3 linked regions of the Homo sapiens genome follow. The protein of the gene in region 1 interacts with the protein of each later gene in a biochemical or structural test. Each region holds a gene or a part of one and is shown in the gene's direction. Other genes may lie near its edges.

Region 1 (7,000 bases):
CAGAAAATGTGGCCAAATTTCACTGTCCCCACTGTGACACAGTCATAGCCCGAAAAAGTGATTTGGGTAAGTAGATTAACTAGTGAGAAGTGAAAAAAATATTTTGAAGGATTTATATTTCGAAATATGGGGATCAAAAATAACTTCACCTTCTGACTCTCATAACATTTTATGTATAGGAATGGCCTGTCACTTAGTTTAGTAAAAGCCATTGCTTAGCTGCTTTTTTTTTTTTTTTTTTTCTATTTCTTCCTTTTCTTACTGTAGTCAGGCCACAAGATTCTGTCCTGAGTAAAACTCATCTATAAATTAATGGGAGCTGTGATGGGAGGAGACAGAGTACACCTTTAATTAGTAGCCTTCCTTCCCCAAATAGGAAAGTAACATAGTGTGATTCAAACTCAGGTCATTCTATTGTATTTTTTTGAGAACGTCTGTACTTTCTCTAGGTAATGGGACTGTTTTATTGGTTTAGTGGTAACTGTATTTCTGTGCATAGTTAAACTAGAGTTTACATGCAGCCGGAGTTTATTAATAATATTTAGTGTAGGCCGGGCGCGGCAGCTCACACCTGTAATCCCAGCACTTTGGGAGGCCAACGCGGGTGGATCACGAGGTCAGGCGATCGAGACCATTCTGGCTAACATGGTGAAACCCTGTCTCTACTAAAAATACAAAAAATTAACTGGGCATGGTGGTGGGCGCCTGTAGTCCCAGCTACTCGGGAGGCTGAGGCAGGAGAATGGCGTGAACCTGGGAGGTGGAGCTTGCAGTGAGCAGAGATCACGCCACCGCACTCCAGCCTGGGTGACAGAGCGCGACTCTGTCTCAAAAAAAAAAAAGGTAACGAGTAAAAAGTGAGAGCCATCCTCTCCCTTACCTCATATCTACTCCCAATAATTAGCTCTCTTTAAGTTTAGTGGGATATCACCTCAGTTGATACAACTTGTAGTACCGTAAATACATAAATTCATGATCCCAAATGTAGCTGGGCCCTCACTGCTCCTAGCTGTTCCAGCTGTTTGTTCTTGTCAGGTGTGCTCCAGTTCTTTATGAGTGAGCGAATTCATTCCACAGTGTTTGGTGCTTATATAGAGTTGGGCAACCTACTCTTACTTTTTTTTTTTTTTTTTTTGAGATGGAGTTTTCCTCTCGTCACCCAGGCTGGAGTATGATGGCATGAACTCAGCTCACTGCCACCTGTGCCTCCCAGGTTCAAGTGATTCTCCTGCCTCAGCCTCCTGAGTAGCTGAGATTATAGGCGCATACCACCATGCCCGGCTAAATTTTTTTTTTTTTTTTTTTTTGTATTTTTTAGTAGAGATGGGGTTTCACCATGTTGGCCAGGCTGGTCTTGAACTCCTGACCTCAGGTGATCTGCCTACCTCGGCCTCCCAAAGTGCTGGGATTACAGACATGAGCCACCGCGCCCAGCCCTCACTTGCTTTTTTTTGTGACAAAGTTTTGCACTTGTCACCCAGGCCAGAGTGCAGTGGCCTGATCTCTGTTCACTGCAACCTCCGCCTCCTGGGTTCAAGCTCTTCTCCTGCCTCAGCCTCCCAAGTGGCTGGGACTACAGGTGCCCGCCCATGGCTAATTTTTGTATTTTTAGTAGAGACAGGGTTTCACCATGTTGGCCAGGCTGCTCTCGAACTCCTGACCTCAAGTGATCTGCCCTCATTGGCCTCCCAAAGTGTTGGGATTACAGGCGAGAGCTGCTACACCAGATCCCCTACTCCTATTTTCTTATAACCTCTAATTTTCCTTCTTTTTTCTCTCCCCTCTTGGTCTCAGTAAATGACTTCTCTTCCTACTTAAAAAATAAAGACAAAGGGCCAGGCGCAGTGGCTCACGCCTGTAATCCCAGCACTTTGGGAGGCCAAGGTGGGTGGATCATTTGAGCTTAGGAGTTCCGGAGCAGCCTGGGCAACATGGCAAAACTCCATCTCTACCAAAAATACAAAACGGTTGTGGTGAGGTGCACCCTTGGTTCCAGCTACTCAGGAGGCTGTGGTGGGAGGATCACTTGAGCTTAAGAGGTAGAGGTTGCAACGAGCCGAGATCGTGCCACTGCACTCCAGCTTGGGTGACAGAGAGACCCCATCTCAAAAAAAAAAAAGAATCTTAGCCAGACACAGTGGCTCACACCTGTAGTTTCAGCTATTCAGGAGGATGGGCCAGGAGTTCTAGACCAACCTGTGTGATATAGCAAGACCCCGTCTCTTAAAATAAATAAAAATATAGCCGGGCACGGTGGCTCACGCCTCTAATCCCAGCACTTTGGGAGGCTGAGATGGGCGGATCACAAGGTCAGGAGATGAAGACCATCCTGGCTAACACAGTGAAACCCCATCTCTACTAAAAATACAAAAATTAGCCGGGTGTGGTGGCACATGCCTGTAGTCCCAGGTACTTGGGAGGCTGAGGCAGGAGAATTGCTTCAATCCGGGAGGGGGAGGTTGCAGTGAGCGGAGATCGCGCCACGGCACTCCAGCCTGGGCAAGAGAGTGAGACACTGTCTCAAAAAAAAAAAAAAAAATTATATATGTGTGTGTGTGTGTGTGTGTGTGTGTGTGTGTGTGTGTGTGTGTATGTGTGTGTATATATATGTGTGTGTGTGTATATATGTGTGTATATATATATGTATTCATATATATATGTATTTTTATATATATGTATGTCTTCACCCTCTAGGTTTAACTCTTCTCTCCTTCCCAGCCAGCCTTTATGAAGAGTTAACATCCCTCACAGTCTTCTCCCCCTCATCTTTCCCTCTTGTCTGGCTTATTCCCCATCACTCTGGTATAATGACTGTTGCTTAAGGTCATGAATGACCCCACTCTCTGAATGTAGTGAAGACTCCTTTCCACTCTTCTTCCTAAGAGATGACTTGATCTGTTAGCAGTGTTCTTCATCGTTGACAGTACCCTCTTCCTTTGAAACACTTTCTTCCCTTGGCCTCTGTGACACTAAATCCTGTTGGTTTTCTTCTTCCTCTTACTTCTTTAAACTTTCTCTTATTTTAACCTTTTTTTCTCTCACTGGCCTTAACTCCAAGGTTTTTGTTTTTGTTTTTGTTTTTTACTGGAGACTGTCTTGCTCTGTTGCCCAGGCTGGAGTTCGGTGGCTCAGTCTTGGCTCACTGCAGCATCGACCAGGCTCAAGGAATCCTCCCACCTCAGCCTCCCTGGTAGCTAGGACCACAGGCACATGCCACGATGACCAGCTAATTTTTTTTTTTAGCTTTTGGTAGAGACAGGGTTTCACTATGTTGCCCAGGCTGGTCTCGTACTCCTGGACTCAAGCAATCCACCCACCTCAGCCTCCCAATATGCTAGGATTACAGGTGTGAGCCACCACACCTGGCCCAACTCTGAGACTTCTTTGTGTGTATGTGTGCTTGTGTGCTTTGTGTGAGAGACGGAGTTTCACTCTGTCACCCAGGCTGGAGTAGAGTGGCGCGATCTCGGCTCACTGCAACCACCACTTCCCTGGTTTAAATGATTCTCCTTCCTCATTTTCCCGAGTAGCTGGGACCACAGGTGTACGCCACCATGCCTAGCTAATTTTTGTATTTTTCAGTAGAGACGGGTTTCACTATATGTTGGCCAGGCCAGGTCTCAAACTCCTGACCTCAGGTGATCCACCCACCTTTGCCTCCTAAAGTGCTGGGATTCTTTTTGAGATGGAGTCTTTGTCGCCCAGGCTAGAGTACAGTGCAGTAGCACAATCTTGGCTCACTGCAACCTCTGCCCCCCAGGTTCAAGCCATTTTCTTGCCTCAGCCTCCCGAGTAGCTGGGATTACAGGTTTACAGGCATACACCACCACGCCCAGCTAATTTTTGTACTTTTTAGTAGAGACAGAGTTTTGCCATGTTGGCCAGGCTGGTCTTGAACTCGTCACCTCAGGTGATCCACCTGCCATGGCCTCCCAAAGTGCTAGGATTACAGGCGTGAGCCACTGTGCCTGCCAACTCTTAGACTTCTCAAAGCATGACCCATTCTTTTTATTTTAATTCTACTTTTTGCCTTGGTGATCTTATCAGCTCCCATGGGCTCAAATTCTAACAACTCTTTGTGGCATTGGTGGTACAGTGATAAGCATAGCTGCTTTCAAATCCTAACAACTTGTACATTTATATTCCTACTCCAGATCTTTCTTTTGAGTTAGCCTTATATAACTGTGTATCCCTTGCCATCCCACCCCTGCTTTTATATCTCTGGCATTTCAAATTCAGCATGTCTAAAACTGAAGGTCTAAAACTTCTCTGTCCCCTATGCCCCCCCACCCCCCGACCCTGAAAATAACACATACAACTTGGTCTTAAGCCCTCTTCCACTATTCTTGTCTCAATAAATGACCCCAACAGCTACCTGGTTTTCCAGGCCTGATACCTACTTTATTCTTCACTCTCTACAGTCACTAAATCCTGTTGATTCAACTGCTTCCATCTCTCATCAGTTCTTCCCCTTCCATCCACACCCATTGTCATCACCCTTGTCCCAGCCACCATCTTCTCCCACCTATCCTGTTTGAACAATCTTAATTGTTCTCCCTGCACCTGTTACTCTGCCTTTTCATTCATTTTCTGTATAGCACCCAGAGTAATACTTAAGAATCAGGAGAAATGGGCTGGGCGCAGTGGCTCACACCTATAATTCCAGCATTTTGGGAGGCCGAGGCGGGCAGATCACGAGGTCAGGAGATTGAGACCATCCTGGCTAACATGATGAAACCCTGTCTCTACTAAAAATACAAAAATAAAAAATAAAAAAATTAGCCGGGCATGGTGGCGGGCGCCTGTAGTCCCAGCTACTCAGGAGGCTGAGGCGGGAGAATGGCATGAACCTGGGAAGTGGAGCTTGCAGTGAGCTGAGATTGCGCCACTGCACTCCAGCCTGGGTGACAGAGCAAGACTCCGTCTCAAAAAAAAAAAAAAAAAAAAAGAATCGAGAAATGTATTAGTAACTTGTTAAAATGCTTGTTTGTGTTTTCACATTACCCTGGGCTTTTTACTGTGCTTTCAGGTGTCCACTTGCGAAAGCAGCATTCCTATATTGAGCAAGGCAAGAAATGCCGTTACTGTGATGCTGTGTTTCATGAGCGCTATGCCCTCATCCAGCATCAGAAGTCACACAAGAATGAGAAGCGCTTTAAGTGTGACCAGTGTGATTACGCTTGTAGACAGGTAGGAACCTTCATTGAAAGTTGTTGGTGCTTTCTCGGTGTCTGGTGTTATCAGAGGGCATTTACATATCTAGTACAGTGGCTGTTTTTAAAGATAGTATTTTCAAACTGTGGATTATGAGGAATGTCACCAAAATCAAAGGTCATGCTCCTTGTCAATTGTGTCATCCCGGTGTCCAGATGATGTTTTATTCAGTCACAGCTTACCTCTTCCTTAAGCAGACATCTTTCTGAAAACTGTGGAAAGTAAGTCCAGGACTTGAGAGAGGGGAAGAATCTCATGCGGGGACATGACTGTTGGGAGGGAGCCAAAGAAGGAGCTCAGCAGGAATAAGCAGCTCTATCTGTGCTACAATTATGGAAGCAGTTGTGCACCACACTAAAAATACCTTTATCAAGCCGGGTGCAGTGGCTCACACCTGTAATCCTAGCACTTTGGGAGGCCGAGATAGGCAACAGAGAGAGACCCCATCTCTACAAAAAGAAAAAATTAGGGCCGGGCGCGGTGGCTCGAGCGCCTGTAATCCCAGCACTTTGGGAGGCTGAGGTGGGCGGATCACTTGAGGTCAGGAGCTTGAGAGCAGCCTGGCCAACACGGTGAAACCCCGCCTCTACTAAAAATACAAAAATTAGCCGGGCATGGTGATAGACGCCTGTAATCCCAGCTACTCTGGAAGCTGAGGCAGGAGAATCGCTTGAACCTGGGGCGGAGGTTGCATTGAGCCGCGATTGCGCCACTGCGCTCCAGCCTGGGTGGCAGAGCGAGACTCTGTCTCCAAAAGAAAAAGAAAAAATTAGCTGGGGCCAGGCACGGTGACTCACACCTGTAATCCCAGCACTTTGGGAAGCCAAGGCAGGCAGATCATTTGAGGTTGGGAGTTCAAGACCAGCCTGGCCAACCTGGTGAAATCCCATCTCTACTAAAAAAAAAAAACAAAAAAACACGAAGGTCGGCCGGGCGCGGTGGCTCACGCCTGTAATCCCAGCACTTTGGGAGGCCGAGGCAGGTGGATCACAAGGTCAGGAGATCAAGACCATCCTAGCTAACACAGTGAAACCCCGTCTGTACAAAAAATCAGCTGGGCGTGGTGGTGGGTGCCTGTAGTCCCAGCTACTCCGGAGGCTGAGGCAGGTGAATGGCATGAACCCAGTGAGCCGAGATTGCGCCACTGCACTCCAGCCTGGGCGACAGAGTGAGACTCCATCTCAAAAAAAAAAAAAAAAAAAAAAGTCAGCTGGGTGTGGTGGCAGGCACCTGTAATCGCAGCTACTCAAGAGGCTGAGGCAGGAGAATTGCTTGAATCCGGGAGGTGGAGGTTGCAGCGAGCCAAGATCGCGCCACTGCACTCCATCCTGGGCGATAGAGCGAGACTCCGTCTCAAAAAAAAAACAAAAAAAATTAGCCAGGCATGGTGGCTCATACCTATGGTCCCATTTTGAAGCTGCAGTAAGCCATGATCACACCACTGCTCTCCAGACTTTGCAACAGAGCAAGACCCTGTCTCTAAATATATAGCTTTATCATCTCAACAAGCCGTGTGGAGTCTAGACCTAGCTTGGGTGAGAAATACCTGTTGGCCACATGCATGCAGGTGGCAGCTGGGGCAGTAGCCCCATGAGCAGGCTCTGAGGCCTTTCCCCCTATGCCGTTTCAGGAGAGGCACATGATCATGCACAAGCGCACCCACACCGGGGAGAAGCCTTACGCCTGCAGCCACTGCGATAAGACCTTCCGCCAGAAGCAGCTTCTCGACATGCACTTCAAGCGCTATCACGACCCCAACTTCGTCCCTGCGGCTTTTGTCTGTTCT
Region 2 (7,036 bases), on another chromosome or scaffold:
ATTTCCTCATGCTGGTACTCAAGAATTGGGATTGTTTTCTAGCACTGTGGGTTTTTTTCTCTTTATATTTTCTAATTTTTTCTCCTGTTCGAGTCACTAAATTGAACCATGATGAATTGTATCCTGGGTCTATGCTTTCGCGATTGAAATGAGTTTTCAGATAAGAAATGAATTATAATTTTAAAAGACTGGTATATGAATTTTAAATTATTATATTCATTTAATCAATGGCCTTATTTTTAAATTAGTTTTTTTAAAAAGTTACTTTCTTTTATATGTCTTAACATGGAAGGCACAATACAGGAATGGTAGAGTGGTTGTACCGGTGATGTTTAAAAACCCAAATATTATTTTCCTCTTTCAAGGAAAGAAATAACTTTTTTTCCCAAGTTGAAAATATGGAAGTCAAATTTATAACAACGTATTCAGTAACTTAGTTTTAAAATAGTACTTTTATAGATTCACCAGTATTTGGTCTAGTTTTTAATCAGTTCAACTTACAGGAACATTTCCTAAACTTTTTTCATAATGAGCCTTCTTTCTAGGTTAGCCTTACTTTTATTGAGTTAAAATGAATACCATGAAGAGTACCTTTATAATACAGTAACATCAAGGAAATGTTACAACCGTTTTTCATACAGATGCGAAGTCAATAATATGTTATAGTTTTTAAGCAGTTAGGTCAAAATAACAGAAATATTTTGTTATGAGAAAATACACTGTAAATGCTTCTGTGTGCCTGCTGTGTAACCCATAAAAGCCATGTAAGTGCCAAGTTAGTGTAGTTCTTTCAAACCTAAGATTACAGCATTGTATTCCATATGCTTGAAAAAGTTTGCTTGCCACACAGTCACCATGCCTTTAGTTAACTTTGATTCAGCAAACCTTGGCAAGCCTTCCATGGTTAAAACAATAAAAGGCAGTACTTTCCTTTAGGGAGTGTACCATCTAATAGAGAGCAGTTCTATAGGTAAGCAAATATTCACATTTGACTTTTAAGATAAACTTATAAGTAATAGTTATCTTTCATCTTTCATTAACTAAATACAACCTTTTGGGTTTGATAGCAGACACCATGGCCATCTTAGAAACATCGAATATAAATGTGGCATTGCAAGAATAAAAATGTTTAGTCAGGTCTGAGCAAATGGCTCTTAAAACTTCAACTTTGTAAGACAGTGATTCTTTTTCAGTAAATGATTTCTACATGTAAAAAGTAAGCACATAGTCACATAGCTAAAATCACCAAAAAGGATGGAGAAGGAACATCTTAGGTGATATTAAGATGATGTCAGCAATATATTGGCTCTGTGGGACCCTTTCAATTGTCTTGTTCACTCATGTGGGCATATTTGTGTATCTTAAAAAAATCTGTTCTTTTCATGCGATTGGAAATTCAGAATTTAGCATTTTTCTAGACAGGTTTCCAAAACCATTATGGTTTCATTAGTTCAGGAGATACTATTTTCCCCTTTCTCTATAAAACTTTATTATTTAGTCTTTAAAAAAATTGTTGACATTCAAAGGTGACTAATGTTAAAATATAAAAGAAATTGAGATCAATAATCGCTTGGTTTTTCTACAAAAAATACAAAGATGGAATGATTTATTTCAATTTGGGTATCACTCAGGTTGCAGTGATGGCAGAGGTCCATAGCTGATTATGGTGGTTGTTAAGAGCTAGGAAGGTAATTTAAAACATCATGACTATGTGTCCATATTTTACTTTTGTCAATAGATTAAAAATTGTAAATGAAATCACATCTGCATGATAAAAAGAAGAAATAGAAACAGGAAGTTGTAATGATGTTGTCAAATAAAAATTCATTTTATCCTTATTAGAGAATGATTGGATATTTAGAGTGTGAGGACCTTAGAGAGCTAGTTGAACTTTCTCATTTTACAGATTAAGAAACTAAAGTCCAGAGAGATTAATTAAATGAACTGCCTCTGACTGGCCACCCACTGTTGCAGAGCTTATCTCAGTTACAGTTGTGTTCCTGGTGCCTAGCATCGTGCCAGTGCAGGAGGGGTGCTGGTCTTGTCTTTGTTGGCTCTGGAAGAGTACAGCTCTTGCTCATGTTCTGACTCAAAGGTACCTTTAGGCTTTAGAATCCTACAGCATAGGACAACATAACTCTTAAAGATGTTCCTAAACCAACAATAATTTGCTTCTGTTTTTGGAGGTTTTTTTTTTTTAACTATGATTATCCATTTAGGAAAAATGCAGAGATAATTATTTCAAGATTTGACAACTGTTTTCACTTTAGATGCATGTATTGATCACCATAGCTAGATTCCTGTTGCATTTTAACTAATGTTAGGTGACTGACTGCAAACATGATTGTTTTTTCAGAGAAGGATTTTTTTGGGGTTTCTGTTCTGCTTTTACTTTGAAAATTAGAAATGTCTTTTTAAAAGTAAAAAATAACGTAGGTATTTATGAAGAAACTTAACTTGTCAGTAAAGGCTGGTTCACTCTCAGGCTTGTTTACCTATGCTAATGTGGAATCTAAGGCACTTTTTAAAGTGACCCTTTGAGCCTTGCTTCCTCTGTGCATGTCAGGATTGGCTTTCACGGCCACAGAATCTGGACTGTGATTAGTCTTCCTGTTTCATCTGTGGTTTTGCTCATTGATTCGGCTGTTTGTTGGGTACCTGCTACCTGAAAGATGCAATGCTATGAATTGTCAATATAGTGATGACATGAGAAGACATGGTAAACTCACACAAAAACTAGAGCTACTGTAAGGTCATAGGTGTGATGCAGTCGGTGCCAGGAGGAGTGAGAGCTTAGGACTTGGGGATTCCGTCAGTTGGGTGGGGTATTACCCCTTAGGAAGTGGCTTTAGCATTACCATCTGAATGATGGTAGAAGAAGGGGTGAGGGCACTTCAGGCAGTGCCCCTCACCTGCAGGGAGGCTGTGTGTTTGAGGCATTCAACTGCAAGATGAGACTCGAGGCAGGCAGTATCCAACTTGGTCAGGGCTTTCAGGATATCAAATTTGGGATTTTTGAAAAAAGCAGTAGGAACCACTGATGAGTGTTAAGCAGCCTTTGACACGAGCAGAGTAGTGTTTTGAAGAAGATTGAATTGGTGGGTGCAGAGAGGACAATAGGTTGTAGACAATATCCTGCCTGCTTTTGTTGTGGTCTGTGGGATGGGGAAATCACAATGATTTGGACTAGATTGGTGGTGGCCATGGGGATGGAGAGAAATGGACAGATTTGAGAGATATTTAACAGTTTCAACGAATAGGACTTGGGGATAGATGCGCTCTCAAGAGGGAGATCTCAGGGCATATAGGTTTCTAGCATGTTCCCTGCTTGGCTGGTTGGCTACTGATCCTATTCACAGAGGCAAGAATCAGATCTGCTGAAGATTTGAGAAGGAAGCTCATGAGTTCTTGTAGCATATGACTGAGGTAGCTGATAATGGACCATGATGACATTGTTTTATCCTTTGCATTGCTAGTGGCATTCCAGAACTTTAAAAAAAGTAATCTGCTAGCTTTAACCAAAAGATATTGGACGTGGGGAGTTCATCAAGGAATGTGAATGGGTTCAGTGAAATGGGAGAGGGGAGGGAAGCCTTACTTGCTGAATACATAGCACTTTGCTTGTTACTTGCCTGATACATAGCACTTTGTAGGAGTTTGCTCATTCCAGGTTGAGCGTAGAATCCTGTGGTAACCAGACCTTGGCACATTTTGTTCTTCTGTATGTCCCCTTACGGAGGCTGCTTTCTGTTGCTAGTCACATATTAGGGCAAGGTCTTTGGGTTCCCGGCACGTGGGTGGCAGGTCCCCCATGTTCTCGGGGCTGCAGTCTCCCTCGGAGAGAGTTGTATTTTAGAAGTTGGTTGTAGTCATACAGAAGCAAGGAAGGAGTGAATACATTATTTAAATAAATGTGGAGAAGAATACCAATGTTTATCAGAATACTTACCTGGTTTTTAGTGGAGTATGTATAAACCAGTTTAATAAGTAAATTACCTTCAAAGTTACTTTGTTCAGTTATTATGAAAAGTAGATTGTAAAGCATGGTTGCCGGTGGCAGATGAGCGATGCTGTTACACCCAGAAAAGCTTCTGAATTGCTGACTTTAATATTATATAAGAAAAATTATGAAAATACAGGACAGTAATTTTGGAGCTTTTTTAGGGAAGTGTTTGTATTTTTGTGTTTGCCAGCTAATATGGGTGATTGCCAGCCAATATGGGTGATAGAACTTTTTGTTATAGATCAAATTTTGTTCTTGTGTGCATAAAGATAACCTTCCTGGGACTCAGTGTCTTTAATTAGGGGTCTGTTTCAAAGATACTTTTATTGTCATTGTGTGTTCCTCATGGGCCTTTCTGGTGGCCATTGTGACTCAGTCAAGTCTTCTGGGTTCCTTCCTGTCTTGTGTTGTTTGTAGGGACATGCTTCATGTGAAAGTTTACCTTCACCTGCAATAGTTTTGAGTGATTATTTGAATAAGCTTAAATTCAGGAGAAGTAATGTTTCCACGTGTGGAATGGCAGGAAAACTTGGTGCACTAACTTCAGCTTCAGATGGGCTTGTGCCAACTACTCTGTGGCAATTTATATCTAATACTATTTCTTCAACTTGCCAGTTTTTCTTAAAAAAAAAAAAAAAAAACTCTTTAAAATACATTCTGTCATTAGGTCCAGCCAGCAGTGTATTCTTAGGGTGTAAGAGATCATTTCTAAGAGGTGTAGACATCGAATGGAAAGGCGCATGCAGGCCCCTGTGGATGTGGCTTTAATGGAAGAATAGAGGGGATGCTTCTTTGGGGCCTGCCTTCTCTCCTGGCATCTGCAGTGGCTGAGGAGGCAGCAGAGGTCATGTGGTGGATTTGAGTTTTCCACCATGTATTTCATCAGGATGAGGTTGGGCAAATAGCCATCTGCTGCTGAGCAGGGACCGCGTGCGACCTGGGTTTCCACACCCACCCTTTGTGTAGGGAAAGGTGTGCAATTAGACACATGTGTTAGGTTGGACACATCACCTCCTTTCCCTAGTATCCTCAGTGTAAAACAGTCAGATTTCTATACCATATTTGCAGTATGTCTAAAAAAGGGTACATGGCACCTTACTAGTTAATTTTCTTTCTAGTTCTGCAGCAAGTTTGGGGAACTACTTTAACTTTTTAGAGGCCACTGTGTCCTCTTTTCATCATTTTGAAAGAAACCACAAACATTTTATTTGTTATCCATTTTTGTTTTGTTTCGTTTTCGAGATGGGGTCTCACAATACTGTCCAGGCTGGATTCTAATTCCTGAGCTCAAAGGCTTTTCCTGCCTCAGCCTCCCAAGTAGCTGGGATTACTGGCATGCACCACTGTGCCCTGTTATATCAACATTTTAGAAATCTGTCTGTTGATATTTAAAACATAATTAGCAAATGTGCATATTATTTCAACACACCTAAAAACTATTAAACATCTTTAACATAATACTAAGCAGTCATAGTGAGAAGTCCCTCGAAGAATTATAAGCATGCCTTTAGTTTCCAAGGCAGTGCTTGCTAGCATACTAAGTGAATAATAAAATCAGTTTGAGCACAGGAATATGATAAAAAAAAAATACCCCAGTTGGTGAAGTATTTTGAAGTGTATGAGCCTAGCAATTATTTATGGTTAGAACTGGCACTATATTGAAATTGTTGAGCCCATATCCTTAAATAATTTTTTAAAAGTCTCTGTTAAAGTGTTTTATGTTCTTGTATACTTGGCCTTGTTTGTGCTTGAAATTTTGCTTTCATTAATCTCAAGTGTACCGATCTTGCAAGAAAAATCATACATATTCATCTTGAGAATTTCAAAATCTTGATTAACAGTGTACCCCACCCTGAAGTATATGTTGGGCCAATCAAGTAAAATAGTGCAGAAATAATAAAACAATATTAAAAATAACAGTAATAACCATAATGACCGGCTGTTATTTCCAGTTGGGTAGTTACTCAGCTGAGTGTTGTCATGGATCATTTCATTTCCTCATCAGAGCAACTCTAGGTAATAGGTAGAACTATTATCCCCATTTTACAGATGAGGAGACTAAAAGGGATGAGAAGTTAAATTACCCAGGGCCATACATTTCTAGCACGTGGTGGAGGAGGAATTTGAATCCAGATGAGCTAGACTCCACAATCTGTGTACATAAGCATGGTGCTGCTGTTGCCACGTAGACCAGCTCTGGAGCTTGCATTGTTGCCGTCTTAATAGACAAAGGTGTGTTAAAAATACCCATGCCATGCTGTGATGCTACCTATTGCTGTGTCTTACCAGCCCAGGCTATTTTTTTCTGTACTTCCTCTGTTGGTGCCTGCTGTAGTTGTGGGGCCATATGTCATGGGATGTCTTCGTACCTAAAACGACCAGGTCCTTGCCTTTCACACTTAAGGCCCTTCTGCTCACATGGAGATGAGGAGAAGAGTTGTTCTTGTGGAGGTTGCCTTCTGAGGCGGCTGAGAATTTGAGTTTTGATGTCGGACAGATACGGGTGTGAATCATAAAAATGGACATAATACATTCTCCTAACTGCCCAGGGTTATGGTGAAGGTTAAGTGAGGCACTCCAGCTAACATACTTGGTATAGCATATGGCATATTCATTGAGTGGTTACTATTTTTATTAGTTCAGTTTAATCATGGAACTTATCAAATCATATGTATTGCTTTTACTTTTGTTTTAAAAAGTCCCTCAAACCATAATCCTACAGATGACTGGACAAGAATGAGTGGCCTAAAATGGTGACTGGCTACACAATTTTCATTTTTCTTCAGGAGAAGACATTTGAAAATAACATCTTTATGTCCTTTGTCCATCAGTGCAACCAGATGTTATTTGCCTAATTCTCTTGTTGATTATATAGAGTTGATTCAGATATCCCAGGTACTAAAAGTGACAGGTTTGAGGGAGTGCTTATCTCTTGTCCTGAAGATGTTCATCTCCTACCAGAGTTATGGCTGTCCTTCTAGTGAAACAGTCATTTCTTCTTTGTCCCAAATCTGCAATTCTCCAAACATGGTG
Region 3 (7,036 bases), on another chromosome or scaffold:
CTGCTTTTCTTGGAGCCCATACGTTTTGGTATATCTTCGTTTTCATTCATTGCAAAAACATTTTCTGATTTCCCTTGTCATTTCTTCTTTGACTTGTTGCTTATTTAGGAGTGTGTTGCTTTATTTTTGCATATTTGTGAATGCACTTACTTTTCAATTTTAGAATCAACCCATAGTGCTATTACAGAACACTTATCTGTAATTACAAAATAGAATGTGAATGTTCTCAGCCAGACAATATGAAAGAAAAGGTACAGCTGATAGAGGTGGGGAAGTAGCCATGGAGAGAGAAAAGATTGAAGGGCAAATGTCCTCATTTTTACAAAGTAGGAAGTTAAGGGATACAGTCTGCGGTTGATGGAGCAGGAAATGAAGGTGTACTGTATTGTCATTTTTGTCATAAATTGGGCAAAACACATATGTACGGATCTCTAATAGTTTTTTGTTTTGTTTTGTTTTGTTTTTTGAGACAGAGTCTCGCTCTGTCCCCCAGGCTGGAGTACAGTGGCGCGATCTCGGCTCACTGCAAGCTCCGCCTCCCGGGTTCACGCCTTTCTCCTGCCTCAGCCTACCAAGTAGCTGGGACTTCAGGCACCCGCCACCACGCCCGACTAATTTTTTGTATTTTTTTAGTAGAGATGGGGTTTCACCATGTTAGCCAGGATGGTCTCGATCTCCTGACGTTGTGATCCGCCTGCCTTGGCCTTCCAAAGTGCTGGGATTACAGGCGTGAGCCATCGCACCCGGCCGGATCTATAATAGTTTTTAAAACTATATTAATATATTAACTTGAATTGGCAATTTAAAAATTGATCTTCATGGAATCTCTGAATTAGATTATCCTTTTTTATGACTTTCTAAAGAGAAATCATCCTGGTAATTTTATTTGATATTTTCTCTTCCCATTGCACACCTTGTTTTACTAATATTTCTTTTTTCTTTATATATATTTTTTTGCCATCAAGATCACTGTGGTAAGGAATATTATTTTGTTGATTTAATATTTCTTATTTTTCCCAGGCTGAGGCAGCTAAATTAGTTCCAATGGGTTTCACCACTGCAACTGAATTCCACCAAAGGCGGTCAGAGATCATACAGATTACTACTGGCTCCAAAGAGCTTGACAAACTACTTCAAGGTGTAGTAATCCTTTATCCTGTGTTGTGAACTCTAGTTAGGAAAGCTTCCAGGTTATAAAACAAAACTGAAATATTTGTGTAGCATTTCCTTGTTAGATAATGATAAAGAGATAGAGGAAGGCCAGGTGCAGTGGCTTATGCCTGTAATCTCAGCACTTTGGGAGGCTGAGGTGGGCAGATCACCTGAGGCTGGGAGTTCGAGACCAGCCCAGCCAACATGGAGAAACCTATTAAAAATACAAAATTAGTTGGGCATGGTGGCACATGCCTGTAATCCCTGTAGGTGCACATGCCTACTCGGGAGGCAGAGGCAGGAGAATCACTTGAACCCGGAAGACGGAGGTTGCTGTGAGCCAAGATTGTGCCACTGCACTCCAGCCTGGGTGACGAGCAAAACTCTGTCTCAAAAACAAAGAGAGATAAAGGAAGTATCCACATTGAAGAGGTAAGACTGCTGCAAGGTAGGACCTTATTTATAAAATACTAAACTTATCTGCAAATTAAATAATTTAGTCTCCATTTAATATTGTGTTAAGAGAGTAAGCTCCTTTTGCTTAAGGAGGTAACTGTAATTATAACCTACTCTACCACAGGGTTGAAAACCTGATGACTGGTTAAAACATTCCATGTTTGAATACTACTCATTGTGTACACACTAATCTTCAGGACTTCAGGGAAAACTATAAAGCTTTTGACCTTATTATTTATTTTTCGAGACAGGGTCTCACTCTGTCACCCAGGCTGGAGTGCAGTGGCATGGTCTCAGCTCACTGCAACCTCTGCTTCCTGGGCTCAAGTGATCTTCTAGCCTCAGTCTCCCCAAGCTAGGACTATGATCATTTACCACCTGGCTAATTTTTTTTTTTTTTTTTTTTTTTTTTGAGTCGGGGCATCACTCATTATGTTGCCCAGGCTGGTCTCAAAATCCTGAGCTCAAGCCATCCTCCTGCCTCAGCCTCCCAAAGTGCTGGGATTATAGGCTTGAGCCACCTTGCCTGGCCCAATGTCAGTTTTCTTTCCCTTTTTTTTGAGACAGAGTCTCACTCTGTTACCCAGGCTGGAGTGCAGTGGCATAATCTCAGCTCACTGCAACCTCCGCCTCCTGGGTTCAAGTGATTCTCCTGCCTCAGCCTCCCAAGTAGCTGGGACTACAGGCAAGTGCCACCATGCCCAGCTAATTTTTGTATTTTTAGTAGAGATGAGGTTTCACCACGTTGGCTAGGTTGGTCTCGAACTCCTGACCTCAGATGATCTACCCGCCTCAGCCTCCCAAAGTGCTGGGCTTACAGGCGTGAGCCATCATGCCTGGCCCCCAATGTCAGTTTTCTAATATCAGTGCTATACTATCATTATGCAAGAGGTTAACACTGCAGAAGGCTAGGTGCATAGAAATTTCGTATGTTTTTTTTTGTTGTTGTTGGTTTGTTTGTTTGTTTTTTAAAGACAGAGTCTTGCTCTGTTGCCCAGGCTAGAATGCAGTGGCACAATCTCGGCTCATTGCAACCACTGACTCCCAGGTTTGAGCAGTTCTCCTGCCTCAGTCTCCTGAGTAGCTGCAATGACAGGCACCCGCCACCGTGCCTGGCTAATTTTTGTATTTTTAGTAGAGACGGGATTTCACCGTCTTGGCCAGGCTGGTCTCAAAGTCCTGACCTCCTGATCCATCCACCTCGGCCTCCCAAAGTGCTGGGATTACAGGCATGAGCCACTGTGCCCAGCTTTTTTTTTTTTTTTTTTTTTTGAGATGGGGTCTTGCTATGTCACCCCGGCTGGAGTGCAGTGGCATGATCTTGGCTCACTGCCACTTCCGCCCCCAGGTTCAAGCTATTCTTCTGCCTCCGCCTCCCGAGTAGCTGGGACTACAGGCATGCACCACCATGCCCAGCTAATTTTTGTATTTTTAGTAGAGACAGGGTTTCACCATATTGTGCCCAGCTTTTTTTTTTTTTTTTTTGAGGAGTCTCACTTTGTCACCCAGGCTGGAGTGCAGTGGCGTGATCTCGGCTTGCTGCAGCCTCCGCCTCCCAGGTTCAAGTGATTCTCCTGCTTCAGCCTGCTAGTAGCTGGGATTACAGGTGCCCATCACCAGTTCCAGCTAAGTTTTGTATTTTTAGTAGACATGAGGTTTCACCATGTTGGCCAGGCTGGTCTCGAGCTCCTGACCTCAGGTGATCAGCCCGCCTCGGCCCCCTAAAGTGCTGGGATTACAGGTGTGAGCCACCGCACCTGGCCTTATTTGCAGCTATCTATAAATCTAATTATTTCAAAATACTTTTGGTTTATTTGTTTGTTTGTTTGTTTGTTTTGAAACAGGGTCTCACTGTGTCACCCAGGCTAGAGTGCACTGGCACGATTTTGGCTCACTGCAACTTCTGCCTCCCAGGCTCAAGTGATCCTCTCACCTTAGCTCCTGAGTAGCTGGTACTACAGGCATCCGCCACCATGCCCGGCTAATTTTTGTAGAGACAGGGCTTCACCATGTTGCCCAGGCTGGTCTCGAACTCCTGAACTCAAGCAATCCACCCACCTAAGCTTCCTAAAGTGCTGGGATTACAGGCATGAGCCACCACGGCTAGCCTCAAAATACATTTGTGAAAAATTATCGCTTGTTGGAAATTGAATTTTTAACTTACATAAACATCTTTCTGATGAGCTCCAAGAACATTTCTATGACTACAGTTTCTACATGTTTGTATTATGCTAAGAGTTATTTCTTATCGCTTTTTTAGGTGGAATTGAGACTGGATCTATCACAGAAATGTTTGGAGAATTCCGAACTGGGAAGACCCAGATCTGTCATACGCTAGCTGTCACCTGCCAGGTGAGCTGTTGGGGCTATAGCTAATCAAATAAGCAAGCATTACTTCATTCCTGCTATTTGCAAGCATCTGTTAGGATGGCCATAAAAGGTACTTTCTCTGTCCTCAAGAATCTTATAGCTGTTAATAGTTAGAAGATAGACTCCTACTTCAAAATCCTTCCATGTCATAGAAACTTCCAAATCATTGATCTCCTATCAGATACGTTAATTTCAAATACTTTTGCTACCAGGCCTTTTCCTGGCTTTACTTGCTACTTTTTTTTTTTTTTTTTTTTTTTGAGGCAGAATCTCGCTGTGTCGCCCAGGCTGAAGTACAGTGGTGTGATCTCAGCTCACTGCAACCTCCTCTCTGGTTCAAGTGATTCTCCTTCATCAACCTCCCGAGTACCTGGGATTACAGGCGCCCACCAGCATGCCCGGCTAATTTTTGTGTTTTTAGTAGAGAGGGGGTTTCACCATGTTGGCCAGGCTCCTCTTGAACTCCTGATCTCAAGTGATCCACCCACCTTGGCCTCCCAAGTGCTGGAATTATAGGCGTAAGCCACTGCGCCCAGCCCTCCATCTTCTTCATTAGTCTAGATTTTATGATTCATCATTAAAGTAATTCTCTTGCAGATAGCCTCAGTTTACATACCCACTTGAAGAGATGCCAACCTTAGATGAAACTCATCTATCTTCTCAGTGTCTGTACCCAAATAGCTGATTATACTGGAGAAAAATCGTATCATACAGCTGACTGACTTCACTTTAAATTCAAGATGACAGGCCAGGCACGGTGGCTCACGCCTGTAATCCCAGTACTTTGGGAGGCCGAGGCGGGTGGATCACTTGAGATCAAGAGTTTGGCTGGGCGCGGTGACTCACGCCTGTAATCCCAGCACTTTGGGAGGCCGAGGTGGGCGGATCACAAGGTCAGGAGATTGAGACCATCCTGGCTAACACAGTGAAACCCCATCTCTACTAAAAATACAAAAAATTAGTTGGGCGTGGTGGCGGGTGCCTGTAGTCCCAGCTACTTGGGAGGCTGAGGCAGGAGAATGGCGTGAACCCGGGAGGCACAGCTTGCAGTGAGCCGAGATTGCGCCACTGCACTCCAGCCTGGGCGACAGAGCGAGACTCTGTCTCAAAAAAAAAAAAAAAAAAAAAAAAAAAAAGAAGAAGAAAAAAAAAAGATCAGGAGTTCAAGACCAGCCTGGCCAACATGGTGAAACCCTGTCTCTACTAAAAATACAAAAATTAGCTGGGCGTGTTGGCACGTGCCTGTAATCCCAGTTACTTGGGAGACTGAGGCAGGAGAATCGCTTGAACCCGGGGGGCAGAGGTTGCAGGGAGCTGAGATCGCACCATTGCATTCCAGCCTGGTCAAAGAAGCGAGACTCTGTCTCAAAAAAAAAAAAAAAAAAAAAAAGAATGAAAAAAGGAAAAAAATTCAAGATGACAAAACTTTAGATTAACATTCAAAACTTCTTGGCAGTCTACTTTCTCCATTTAGGTGTACTTTCCCACTGAGTTAGACAGGCATCTCATATCTCATACTTCGTCTTCTGTTATCAGAACTTTATGCTCCTCTTCAACTCTCATTCTTAGCCAAAAACCTAACCTGCTCTTTGCATCAAATCTACATTTGTGCCCATCTTTTCTTATCTCAGGTTACAATTGAGAAAGTGTCCCTTTTCTTCTCAAAGGCCCATTCTATCAATATGATTTGGTTACCATCTCCTGCCACCTTCTCAAGGACTCTACTCCTTCCATTTTCTCTTGTACCTCTCTATGAGATTATCCTCATCAGTATACAAATATGTCTAGTGTCTCCTCCATTAGGAAAAAACCTTCCCTGGACCCCTTCAGTTTCTTTTTCCTTTACTTATGCTCCTATTGGTGGGAAGATTTGGAAATAGACACAGTAGGTTAAATAATTGCCCAATACATTGTATTTAAGTAGCAAATACTGGACTCAAACCAGACTTCAGAGATGATGTTCTTAAAACTTCATAAGAGGCCAGCATGGTGTTTCATGCCTGTAATCCCAGTACTTTGGGAAGCCAAAGTGGGAGGATTGCTTGAGACCAGGAATTTGAGACCAGCCTGGGCAACATAGTGAGACCCTGTTTCTGAGATGCCATTTCTAAAAACAAACAAACAAAAACAGACAATTAAAAATATTAGCCCAGCATGATGATGTGTACCTGTGGTCCTAGCTACTCAGGAGGCTGAGGTGGTAGAATCTCTTGAGCCCAAGAGGTCGAGGCTCCAGTGACTGGGATCGTGCCACTGCATGTTTTCTGCTGTATTGCTAGTGCCTAAGGCAGTGTTTGGCTCTCAGTAAACAATAAATGCTTGAATGAGTGGAGATAATAGATGTCCAAAAACATGCCTGATATATAAAATGAATGTCACAGAGGAAATGGGTTAGCTGTTTAAGGAATAGAAAGGGGTAATTTCACCCTAGAGTGATCATGGAATACTTTATGGAGAAAAGATTTTGGACCAGACTTCTGAAGAATGCTAAATTTGGGAAGGAAGGAAATTAAAAGCATTTAACTGTATAGAATGGGATGAACAGAGGATGGGAAGGCATAAGTTAGAAGGAAAAGACAATAAATAAGCAAGGTCATTTAACTGGTTTAGAGTTTGTGTAGAAAAGTTGTAGGAGATGACCCTTAAAAAGATACATCAAACTGGGCATGATAGCTCACACCTGTAATCCCAGCACTTTGGGAGGCCACGGTGGGTGGATCGCTTGAGCTCAGGAGTTTGAGACCAGCCTGGGCAACATGGCAAGACCCTATCTCTACAAATAATATAAAAATTAGCCAGACGTGGGCTGTGCCTGTAGTGGCAGCTACTTGGGAGGTGGAGGCGGGAGAATCGCTTGAGCCCAGGAGGCCAAGGTTGCCATGAGCCAAGATTGTACCACTGCTCTCCAGCCTGGGCAACAGAGCAAGATTTTGTCTCCATCTCAAAAAAAAAAAAAAAATTAAGATCCTATTTCAGAAGGTTAAGAAGTTTAAACTTGATTTTATGAAGAGTAAGCATTAGCTGGTCAGGAAACTAAGATAGTGACAATAAAGAGAAG

Evidence for each region. The genes of interacting proteins can lie anywhere in the genome.
Region 2: the proteins of CTCF (region 1) and CHD7 interact in a test that uses a peptide from one of them, tested with the Homo sapiens proteins (one study listed by BioGRID).
Region 3: the proteins of CTCF (region 1) and RAD51 form a complex in vitro, tested with the Homo sapiens proteins (one study listed by BioGRID).

What each region holds. Positions count from the first base shown.
Region 1 is NC_000016.10:67,621,526-67,628,525, forward strand, and holds part of CTCF (transcriptional repressor CTCF), read left to right. Parts: coding exon 1-66; intron 67-5,029; coding exon 5,030-5,190; intron 5,191-6,844; coding exon 6,845-7,000.
Region 2 is NC_000008.11:60,681,723-60,688,758, forward strand, and holds part of CHD7 (chromodomain-helicase-DNA-binding protein 7), read left to right. Parts: intron 1-7,036. UniProt on the Homo sapiens protein: ATP-dependent chromatin-remodeling factor, slides nucleosomes along DNA; nucleosome sliding requires ATP. Probable transcription regulator. May be involved in the in 45S precursor rRNA production.
Region 3 is NC_000015.10:40,705,157-40,712,192, forward strand, and holds part of RAD51 (DNA repair protein RAD51 homolog 1), read left to right. Parts: intron 1-1,020; coding exon 1,021-1,138; intron 1,139-3,868; coding exon 3,869-3,960; intron 3,961-7,036.